Linked DNA regions of Homo sapiens. The protein of the gene in region 1 purifies or fractionates together with the protein of each later gene. This does not show direct contact. Each region holds a gene or a part of one and is shown in the gene's direction. Other genes may lie near its edges.

Region 1 (5,301 bases):
CCCTGGCAGCCTACCGGGCTAGCCTCGTCTCCAAGGTAACACCCGGAATCTCCAGGCACAGCCCTGATCAGAGTGGGGCCACTTGAGGAATGGAGCAAGAACTGGGGCCCGTGGGAAGGGCCGGCACCCCAGGTCTTAGAAAGAATGGCTCAGACCTACATGGTCATGTCTGCAGGGCACCTACAGCATGCCAGGCTCATTCTGGGCACTTTACATGCATTTCATTGGCTTCTTCCAACAAGAACCCAGCACCCAGAGGGGTTGAGCAACTTGCCTGAAAAGATCCAGTTTGTTAAAGTGGCCGCACTAGGATTCAAACCCAGTTTTGCCAGTTTTATGTGGCCTTCACTTCTGACCGCTGATGGGGCTTGGGACACGCTACCCCAAAATATGGCACCTCCTCACCACACCGTCGGCCTCCTCTGTCAACACCAGCAACGTAGGAAGCTAAGTGTGGCTGCGGATGCGTGGCCCAAGTGGAGGTGGGTGTTGTTCCTGGTACAGAAGAGATGGCATCCAAACTGGTCTATAACAGGCCAAGTAAAAGGTGGTTCAAAGTCAAGGGAAAAACATCTACAAAGGCACAGAGGTTGGAAGGAGCATGATTAGAGCTGGCTCAGTGGGATGGTGCTTGTCTCACTGGCCAGGCTGAGGAGCATGGATTCCCCCAAGGGCAGGGGAGCCCCCCAAAGATAAAAGCAGTAGGTGACTGGATGGTCAGAGCCAAGGGGACTAAGGACCCTGTGCTATCTCTGGTTAGTCCAAGCTCTCTCCCAAGACAGCCAGCCAGCAGCCGTGTCAGTGGGTTGCAGAGCCTCCTGGCCTCACAGCCCATGTTCTGGCTCATCCCTCTTCTGTTCTCCAGTGACTGATATCTGTCTCCTTCCAGAGCTCCCCAGATCAAGGTGAGACCAAGAGCACTCAGGCAAACCCACCAGCCAAAATGCTCCCACCCAAGCAGCCCATGTATGCCATGCCAGGCCTGGCCTCCTTCCTGACGCCGTCGGACCTGCAGGCCTTCCGCAGTGGGGCCTCCCCTGCCAGCCTCGCCCGGACGCTGGGCTCCAAGTCTCTGCTGCCAGGCCTCAGTGCGTCCCCGCCGCCGCCACCCTCCTTCCCGCTCAGCCCCACACTGCACCAGCAGCTGTCACTGCCCCCTCACGCCCAGGGCGCCCTCCTCAGTCCACCTGTTAGCATGTCCCCAGCCCCCCAGCCCCCTGTCCTGCCCACCCCCATGGCACTCCAGGTGCAGCTGGCGATGAGCCCCTCACCTCCAGGGCCACAGGTAAGCAGGGAAGAGCAGAACAGCCCTTCTGTGACCGTGTGGGGAGGGGAAGCGGCTTTGCCCTTTCAAACCCTGGCCCTGCCACTCACCAGTGATATAACCTCAGCCTTGGCACCTGACCTCTCTGAGCCTCAGTTACCACATCTAGGAAGTGGGTCTCGCACACCTTACCTGAGATGTGCTGGCTGCAGTGAACAGTTCACGAGTTGCCAGACTGACTCTTAGGATACTCCAGTCCCCCCTTCCTGCATCCTCAGCCCTAGCCCTGGCCCTTCCCAAAGCCTTCGAGACCTTACCCCCGCTAATTGTTCCACAGAGATTGCTACGAGGTTCACATGGCCCTTAGAGGTCATTGGGTTCAGTAATTCCATTTTACAGATCGAGAAACTGAGGCCCAGAAAGGGAAAGGCCCTGAAAGCCAAGTCCTTCAGCCCCTGATTCAGCCAAGACAAGGGTTGAACATTTTGAAAGGTGCTCTACTGGGAGCAAGGCAGCAGCCCTGGAGGCAGCATCTCTTTGGTGTGGACACCCTTGGACACATGGGCTCTCACCCCGGGAGGCCTGGGACAGTCTGCCCCCTCATCTCTCCTTGGCTCATGGCCTCCTCCTTCCCACTCTGTAGGACTTCCCGCACATCTCTGAGTTCCCCAGCAGCTCGGGATCCTGCTCACCTGGCCCATCCAACCCCACCAGCAGCGGGGACTGGGACAGCAGCTACCCCAGTGGGGAGTGTGGCATCAGCACCTGCAGGTTAGTCCTCGCCCGTCCCTGCCTTTGTCCTGCCAGCCAGGGAGAGTGGGAACAGGATGGCCAGGGATGGGAGAATGGCCAAGGGCAACGTGGACAGGGGAGGACCCTGCAGTCACTGTCAGCCCTGCTGAGGGGATCGATATCTCAGATGACACCGCAGAGCCAGGCCCCGGAAGGACTCTGCTGGCCTGATGCTGAGGCCTGCTTGGGAAACTGACTAGTCTTCAGTCTTGCTGCTTCTTCCTTGCTCCTGTTTTTTTCACAAGTGCTTCCACGTGACATTCACAGATGAGTCCTGCATCTTAGGCCAGTTCCCTAGAAGCAGAGCCTGAGGCAGCAGGGATTGGGTGCCTTTGGGGATGCACTGGGGAAAGCTTGCAGGAGAAGGGGGTGAGGGAGGCAGGACAGGGTGGGGGAAGGAGCTGAGGGGGGATGTGGCCTCAGCTGAAGACTTGCTTCTGCCTCATCCCATGGGAGCCCTGGAGCATGAACGGTGCTAGAGTGGCTCCCACCTGGAGGTCAGGGAACTGGCTTTTTGAACCCTTCATCAGTCAGCCCTTGGCTGTGGGCTGCCCCGGGGTGAGTGTAGCCCACTGGGCAGGGCAGCTCCCAAGACTAGAACAGCTAAGAATGCAGGACAGGGGACCTCGGTGGGACACGGTGGGAGAAGGGACCCACTGTCTATCCCAAGGAATTACAGACACCTTAGAGACCCCTTCTCCCTGCACCCCAGTGTCCTCCCTAGTCCTCCTGTGGGCCTCCTGTCTCAGGCCTCTGTTCCTATCCTGCACTCCACCTTTCAAACCCATGCTAACACCTCCCTCTAGAAAGTCTTCCTGGATCCACGCCACCCCAACTCTGGGGAAGAGTGACCTTTCAACAACCGCAGCCAGCAGGAGAGGGAGAGTGCAGTGAGGAGGGACACTTGCTCCTTAACCCGCCAGCCAGGTTCCCATTCCCTTGGCAAAAATGAGTCCCGCAGCCACACCTGGGGGACGTAGTGCCAAGCAGCTGTCCCAGCGATAGCGCCACAACCTGGAAGGCACAGCGCACTTGTCGGGTGGCCACCTTGCTGCTGAGAAACGCTGCCCCCAGCCCTAGCCTCGGCCTCCCAGCACACGGCTGGTTCCTCTGCTGACCCACCAGCGCCCTTGGACACTGAACAAGTGACCAGCGCGCATGCCCCATTTCTGACATGCCTGAAGTGAGATTCTACATGGGTGGGTGGACTCAGCTCAGCAAGAATCCCTTCCCTGCACCCCAAGCAGGTGCAGACCCTCCTACCCCAGCCCTTTCCTGTCCCTAAGTTTCCTTCTCAAAAGTCAGAATACTTAGGGTATGTAGGGGAGTGTCACACAATGTCCAAGCCTCCTGAGGCTTGCCCATCACATCCAGCATGGAGGTCAGACCCCAGCAGGGCCGTATTTTAAAAACATAAAAAGCACCTGTCCTCCCTTAATTCAGTTTGAGATTTACAAATTCCTGTGATTAAAAACCCATGTGAGAGCAATGGTGACATCGGCGTGCGCCTCGATGAAAGACAGACACGCTACTGCCCTTTCACCCAGAGCTGAGGACCGGGTGGTCCCCTGCTGGGTTTCCGGGAGGGGTTTGGTTCTGCTTGGTGTAGAGGTGGGTGGGGGTGGGACTTGCAGATGCAAGTCCCTCATTCAGCCACAGAGGGGCAGCTGAATCCAGGGGTGGGGGTGGGGCGTACAGTGCAGGGGTCCTGGTGCTCCCCTGGCCCGGAGAGGTACCCAACAGCTTTGACAGCCCCTCCTCTCTCTCACAGCCTGCTCCCCAGGGACAAATCGCTCTACCTCACCTAATCCCGCCTCCCTACCATCCCTGAGGCTCGCTGGAAGGCACTGCTCAGAGCCTGAAGGGCTGACAGCAGAAAAGAGGCCCTGGCCAGAGGCAGGGTGGCCCATCGGAGAGAGCAGTGACACACCCATTGCCCGGGGGCTGAGTCTCTTCCTCAACCTCCCACCAGACTCTGCAGAGGCAGCCCACTGCCCACCACCAGCCCAAAGAACCTGCAGGAACCTTCCGCCCGCTGACCTGCTTGCTCCAGGGTAACTGTGGACCCTGTCCTCGCCCTGCGCACGGTACCCTATGTCTGGACACCCGGCCCCAGCTCCAGCCCCAGCCCAGGTGGGCCGCCCCTGGCGGGGTCGCTTACCAACGGACACCCACCCCAGATGCATGGGCCAGAGGGCCGGCCCCCGGCATAGATGTGCACATCGGTTTTCCAGTGTGAACAAAAGATTACGAAACCTAGAAACTGTTGGTTCCGTGTAAGTAGTTGACTACGTGTTTTAGAACTGTGCTGAAGACATCTGTAAGACTATTTTGTGGGGGAAAAAAGTAGTTTCCTTTAAGGTAAAAAGCATTTTATATGATCCTTAGCACATTTTTAAGTTTTATCTTAAGGGAGACGCGCACAAAAGCGGCTGCCAAACCGTTTCGTCATCCTCACAGCAAGGACCGGACGCTTGCTAGCCACCCCGGAGCACTGCTCTCCTTTTAATCATGTATTCATCTATTTTAAATTGCCGGCGACGACTTTTGTCTATTTATGAAGAAACCTTGAGAACGAAGTTACAGCTTATCCTACCGTGTGTGTGGTTTTGGGGTTTCGTTTGGGTTTGGGTTCTTGACGTCGTTTGCAGCTGTTTCCTGGCCCTGGCGAGTGTCTGTCTTGGTGCCCAGTGCTTCTCTCAAATCTCTTTATAATAAAACTTCTGAAAAGCTGAAAACAAGTCTGTGTCTCCTTGCCCTTGGTGAGCCAGGGTTGAACCCCCTAAAGTGGCATAGAGCCCCTCGGGCCAGACGGACACGGGTCAAAGTCTTGCCTGACCTTTACCAGCCCATGTGGGTTTGTGTGTGGGTGATGGGACCACTCTGACCTCAGTCTTGCCCTCTAAGGGGGTAACAGTGGTCAGACCCGTAGGGCTCTTGCGACGATGAGAAGGGGTGTGGGCAAGAACGCCGCCACACAGGAACTTGCATCAGCTGGTGACAGTGGCGAGCCCTTCCTCTGGAGGATGGGGCCACCCAGGCTTGTGGAGGTGAGCAGTGGGAATCCAGGGAGGAGGCCAAGGGGTTTTTCAAACCTGAGTGTAGGAAGCATCCCAGACAGGGAATTCTTTAAACCAGATTTCCCAGCAGATGTTAGATGGTGATACTAACAACGACAGCAAACAACAACAAAAGGCAAATAATAGTTGACTGTTTTAACTACATCTGGAAAAATACCAATTGCC
Region 2 (7,036 bases), on another chromosome or scaffold:
AGCTGATATGCAACTTCGGCAAAGTCTCAGGATACAAAATCAAGGTGCAAAAATCACAAGCATTCCTATACACCAATAATAAACAGCCAAACCATGAGTGAACTCCCATTCACAATTGCTGCAAAGAGCTTAAAGTACCTAGGAATCCAAATTACAAGGTATGTGAAGGACCTCTTCAAGGAGAACTACAAACCACTGCTCAAGGAAATAAGAGGACACAAACAAATGGAAAAACAACCCGTGCTCATGGATAGGAAGAATCAATATCAAGAAAATGGTCATACTGCCCAAAGTAATTTATAGGTTCAGTGCTATCCCCATCAAGCTACCATTGACTTTTTTCACAGAACTGGAAAAAACTACTTTAAACTTCATATGGAACCAAAAAATAGCCCGCATAGCCAAGACAATCCTGAGCAAAAAGAACAAAGCTGGAGGCATCATGCTGCCTGACTTCAAACTATACTACAAGGCTACAGTAACAAAAACAGCATGCTACTAGTACCAAAACAGAGATACAGACCAATGGAACAGAACAGAGGCCTCAGAAATAATACCACACATCTACAACCATCTGATCTTTGATAAACCTGACAAAAAGCAATGGGGAAAGGATCCCCTATTTAATAAATGGTGTTGGGAAAACTGGCTAGCCATATGCAGAAAACTGAAACTGACCCCTTACTGACACCTTATACAAAAATCAACCCAAGATGGATTAAAGACTTAAATGTAAGACCTAAAACCATAAAAACCCTAGAAGAAAACCTAGGCAGTACCATTCAGGACATAGGCATGGGCAAAGACTTCATGTCTAAAACACCAAAAGCAATGGCAACAAAAGCGAAAATTGACAAATGGGATTTAATTAAACTAAAGAGCTTCTGCACAGCAAAAGAAACTATCATCAGAGAGAACAGGCAGCCTACAGAATGGGAGAAAATTTTTGCAATCTATTCGTCTGACAAAGGGCTAATATCCAGAATCTACAAAGAACTTAAACAAATTTATAAGAAGAAAACAACCCCATCAAAAAGTGGGCAAAGGATATGAACAGACACTTCTCAAAAGACATTTATGCAGCCAACAAATGTATGAAAAAATGCTCATCATCACTGGTCATTAGAGAAATGCAAATCAAAACACAATGAGATACCATCTCACACCAGTTAGAATGGCAATCATTAAAAAGTCAGGAAACAACAGATGCTGGAGAGGATATGGAGAAATAGGAATGCTATTACACTATTGGTGGGAGTGTAAATTAGTTCAACCATTGTGGAAGACAGTGTGGCCATTCCTCAAGGATCTAGAACTAGAAATACCATTTGACCTAGCAATCCCATTAGTGGGTATATACCCAAAGGATTATAAATCATTCTACCATAAAGACACATGCACACGTATGTTTATTGCGGCACTATTCACAATAGCAAAGACTTGGAACCAACCCAAATGTCCATCAGTGATAGACGGGATAAAAAAAGTGTGGTACATATACACCATGGAATACTATGCAGCCATAAAAAAGGATGAGTTCATGTCCTTTGCAGGCACATGGATGAAGCTGGAAACCATCATTCTCAACCAACTATCACAAGAATAGAAAACCAAACATCCCATGTTCTCATTCATAAGTGGGAGTTGAACAATGAGAACACATGGACACAGGGAGGGGAACATCACATACTGGGGCCTGTCAGGGAGTTGGGGGCTAGGGGAGGGATAGCATTAGCAGAAATAACCTAATATAGGTGACGGATTGATGGGCACAGCAAACCGCCATGACACATGTATACCCATGTAAGAAAACTGCACATTCTGCACATGTACCCCAGAACTTAAAGTGTGTATGTATGTGTGTATGTGTATATATATATACACATAACATATATATATACACACACACACACCCAACATACACACACACACACACACACACACACACACACACACACACACACATATACACATAACATATTCTTGGTCATAAAATAATTCTGAGTACATTTTGGAAGATGAAAGTTATATGGTGTATGTTCTGTAATCCACAGAATTAATTAGAAATCAATAACAGTAAGACAATAGATGTCAATTACTGGAAATTAACATAATTTTTTATAATCATTGGGTCAAAAAACTCACAAGAGCCATTAGAAAATAATTTTAAATGAACAATAATGAAAATAATACATATCAAAATTTGTGGGGTGTAGCTAAATGAATGCTTAGAAGGAAATTTGTAGCCTTAAATACCTGTATTTGAAAAGAAGAAATTTCTCACATCGTTAACTTAAGCTTGTATCTTAAGAAACCAGAAAAATAAACCAAAAGAAAACAGAAACAACAGCAATCAGAAATTAGTGAAATAGAAAACAGAAAAATAGTAGAGAATAATTAATAAAACCAAAAGTACTCTTTGAAAAAAATTAATAGAATTGAAAAACGTTTTGGGGTATTGTTAAAGGAAAAAGAGGGAAGACACAAATTACTGACATCCAAGAAAACATTAGAAAACCCAATATCAATGAATGGAAGTGAATTAGTAATTAAGAACCTTTCCTCAAAGGTTCCAAGCCCAGACAGCCTTATTGGTGCGTTCTGTCAAACATTTAAGTTAGAAATTTGACCAATCCTCTACAAGCTGTTTGAGAAAATAATGAGAAGGGAGTACTTCTCAACTTATTTTATAAGGCCACTGTCACCCTCATTTCAGAAATCAGACAGAACTATTTTAAGAAAAGACAACTATAGCCCAATACACTTGTGAACATATGCAGAATTTCTTAACAAAGTATCAACAAATTAAACAATAGGTAAAAAGCATAAAAGCTTAAGTTATGTGGCCAAATGGAGCTTCTCCCAAGAATTCAAAGTTGTGTTAACATCTGGAAACTATTAAGCTAATTTCACCATATTAATATGATAAAGTTAAAAATCTGTGTGATCATTTTATAGAGATACAGAAAAAGAATTTGACAGTTTTATTTTCTTTTTCTTTTCTTTTCTTTTTTTTTTTTTTAGACGGAGTCTTGCTCTGTCACCCTCACTGGAGTGCCATGGTGTGATTTCAGCTCACTGCAACCTCCATTTCCTGGGTTCAAGTGATTCTCATGTCTCAGTCTCCCGAGTAGCTGGGATTACAGGCTCCTGCCAGCACATCCAGCTAATTTTTGTATTTTTTGTAGAGACGAGGTTTCACCATGTTGGCCAGGCTGGTCTTGAACTCCTGACCTCAGGTAATCCGCCCACCTCAGTCTCCCAAAGTGCTGGGATCACAGGCATGAGCCACTGCACCTGGCCTACATTTGACAAAAATTCAACAAACTTTCATTAAAAATATGCAGATGGCTAGAAATAGAATAGAACTTAGTTGATTAAGTAAATGTTATATAGAAGATCTACAACTTACATAATATTCAAGGGGGATGAAAACAATGTTATTCCTAACTTGTGAAACAAAGCATGTATGCTGCTGTTTACTTTCATTTAACTTTGTACTGCAGGTCTGATCTAGGGCAATAAAGCAAGAAAAAGATGTAAAAAGCATACGGATTGGAAACAAGTAAAGCTGCTCTTGTTTGCATACCACATGGTTGCATGTGTAGAAAATGCAGAAAAATAAGAGTGACTGGAACTAATAAATGAATTTAATAAAGTTGCAGTATACAAAGTCAATATACAAAAATCAATTGTATTTTTAAATACTAATAAGTACAATTAGAAAGTGAAATAAAACCCTCCACAATAGCATAAAAGAACAGTCTTGTGTCACTTAATGACAGTGATACGTTTTGAGAAACATGTCATTAGGAACATTGTGTAAACATACTACTTGGACAAACCTAGATGGTATAGCCCACCCCATACCTAGGCTATTTGGTGTAGCCTGTTGCTCACAGTTTACAAACCTGTACAGCATGTTAGTGTACTGAATACTATAGACAATTGTAATGCAATGGTAAGTATTTATGTATCTAAACATATAAGCATAGGAAGGGTACAGTAAAAATACAGTGTAATAATCTTAGGGGACTGCCATCGTATATGCAGTCCATCATTGACTGAAACATTGTTATGTGGTGCATGATTGTATGTAGGAATAAATTCAGTTAAAGATGTGAAAGATCTTTACACAGAAAATTACAAACATTGCATTGGGAAATTAAAGACCTGTATAAATGTAGAGCTATACCATGTTCATGGATTGGAAGATTTAAATGATTACGATGGTAGTTTTCCCAAAATTCATCTATAGATTTAATGTAATTCCAGTCAAAATCCAAATAGACTTTAAGAAGTAGACAAGCTGATTTTAAAATTCACATGGAAAAATAATGATCCTTGGTCTGATAACCAAATGTCAAAAAATAAATGCTTGATATAAATGCTCCTGAGACTGATTGTTCAAACTACAAGCTGTATCCTTTTTTTTAATTTTTTCTAAGAAATTTACTATGATCTGGAAACAATGAAAGGTTTTGGCTTTGAAAACCTTTCCTTGGAATGTCTGTTGGACCTCATAGAAATCTTCAGGATGTCAATGATGGACTTAAAATAGCTAAGCAAAACACTTCTAAAAACTGCAGCAAACTTTTAGGGGGTCAACTTAATAGTTAGGATTGGCCAAGTGCGGTGGTTCATGGCTGTAATCCCAGCACTTTGGGAGGCCATGGCGGATGGATCACTTGAGGTCAGGAGTTCGAGACCAGCCTGGCCAACATGGTGAAACCCCGTCTCTACTAAAAATACAAAAATTAGTCAGGCATTGTGTCACACGCCTGTAATCCCGGCTACTCAGGAGGCTGAGACAGGAGAATCACTTGAACCCACGAGGTGGAGGTTGCAGTGAGCTGAGATCATGCTATTGAACTCCAGCTTGGGCAACAGAGTGAGACCGTTTCCAAAAAAAAAAAAGTAGGATATATATATGTACAGACAAATAAAATTTAACTTTTCATGTAAATGATTTTAACTCGAGTTTTCAACAATTTTTTTCTTCTCTTTTTTTCTTTAACATACTTCCAAAAAATGCTACTACAGACTTTAGGCATGTGGTGAATGAAATGCTCTTAGGATTATTTTCACTTTGGGGTGATGGTGAGAGTGTATGCTTATCTGTGTTGAGTGTGTTTGATCTCTGAATAGATTTTATTTGTATTGATTTCATAGTTTATAAAAGGAAAATATTTAAATCATTTACCATCTTCTATTAATGGGAAATTTTACTCATTTTTATAGGGAAGAATGGACAGAAGCTATCCAGGCTGTAGCAGACAGACTGCAGAGGCAAGAAGAGGAGAGAATGAATTGTAGTCCAACTTCACAAATTGATAATATAGGAGAGGAAGAGATGGATGCCTCTACAACCCATCATAAAAGAAAGGTAGAAAATAATAACTTATTCCCAGCACAGCATTCATTTGTCTGGAAGAAACATATTAAAAGCTACCATTTGCAGAAAGATGTCAGCCAGTTTTCTTACGATATGTAAATATATTGGTGGGTCTTATTCACATGAATCTGAAATACCTGTTGTTGTTTAAAACCAAATAGGTGAACATTGTTTCAGTGATCCAGCACTTTAGCACTGAATGCTGATAGGGCTCATGTGTGACTGATGTGCCATCACACTACTTTATAATTTGCATTTTTTCCTTATTATTTTTAATACAATTTTAGAAACTTTGTAATAAAATGTTTTCCCTGATGATTTGTTCTTTTCCATTTCGCATTTCGTATTCTCCCGAAAAGCACGAGCAGTAATGGCTCGGATGTACTTCCTGATTGGTGCCCTCAGTCATAGTAAAGTCAGCAGGAAAGTGAACAATCTTGGAAACAATAACTCTTATTTAATGGCTGCTTCTGAGTCAGTAGGGAAATAGACTTTTCCTTCTCTCAGTGTTCCAGCATAATAAGTACGAATTTATATTTTTATGAGCAATATAAATTTTTTCATTGCAATAGAAAATTGAAAAGCAATTTCCTTATTACAAAAATGATATTTTCATGATTAAAGATAGAGGTGTTGAGATAAGCTTGCCATTTATCACTTTAGAATATGTTTGATTTAATAGGTTGTAAATTAATCTTCAGGGAGGAAAACACAAATTTTCAAGGTATTATCCATGAAATTTGGTATTAGCACAGTGATTAAGAACTCTTTGGAGATAGACTGCCTGAGTTCATATCCTCCCTTTTCCACGTTAAACTTGTGGACTTGGTGAAGTTACACACTCACAACATAAAGTTAATTATCCTTTCCTTATGTGAATAAGAATAATATTCTATACTTGATCTGGGCCAAATGTCTGAGATCCCTTTCTGTCTTCATTGTAGATTTCTACTCTGTTTGTTTGTTGAACTGAATCCCTCTTTTCTTTTACGTCAATTTAATCTGCCTTGTTCCTCCATCATTGCAAAAAGAAAAACAAAGTCTAGCTACACCCACCTACCTACTCAGAGATAAGAAAGCTTCTTTTGTACATGTGTAAATTATTTCATTTAAAATGAAATGAAGAATAGTGTAAATCTGATATGGTTAAGTATTTGAACCCCAAATTCAAAATACCTCTATGGATTTTTCTTTTTGGAGACTCAGTTGGAGTAAAAAATTCTAAGAGAAGATGTTTTAGAGTGATGTTTATGTTTAATTATCTTTATGTGGACAAAGAATAGTAGCTAACTTTAATAGCTAATATTTATTGAGCACGTATTACATAAACACTTTAAACATTTTTTTTTTCATTTTGAACTTCAACTATAAGTTAAGTACCATTATTATTCCTGTTTTATAGTTAAGGGAAATAAAGGATGGAAGGATTAAGAAATTTTCCCCTTAATTACACACAGGGTGGGAGCCAGTACTTAACCCCAGGCAGTAAGATCTGAACTCCTCCCTTTCTAGCACTAGGTTGTGATAGTAAAGTTCTACTGGTTTTTTCAAGAATTTACAAGCTTTATTATCAATTGAAATTAACTAATATCCAAATGTCATATAAGGACAACAGTTTTTCATAATATTTTGAGAAACAGA

What was found. Proteins that work in one complex are often made in the same cells at the same time.
Region 2: the proteins of TOX2 (region 1) and AKT3 purify together in Homo sapiens (affinity purification with mass spectrometry; 2 studies listed by BioGRID and IntAct, with this or other methods). This does not show direct contact.

Annotation. Positions count from the first base shown.
Region 1 is NC_000020.11:44,064,823-44,070,123, forward strand, and holds the end of TOX2 (TOX high mobility group box family member 2), read left to right. Parts: coding exon 1-35; intron 36-889; coding exon 890-1,285; intron 1,286-1,907; coding exon 1,908-2,035; intron 2,036-3,827; coding exon 3,828-3,864; 3' UTR 3,865-4,794; downstream 4,795-5,301. UniProt on the Homo sapiens protein: Putative transcriptional activator involved in the hypothalamo-pituitary-gonadal system.
Region 2 is NC_000001.11:243,644,243-243,651,278, reverse strand, and holds part of AKT3 (RAC-gamma serine/threonine-protein kinase), read left to right. Parts: intron 1-5,241; coding exon 5,242-5,386; intron 5,387-7,036. UniProt on the Homo sapiens protein: AKT3 is one of 3 closely related serine/threonine-protein kinases (AKT1, AKT2 and AKT3) called the AKT kinase, and which regulate many processes including metabolism, proliferation, cell survival, growth and angiogenesis.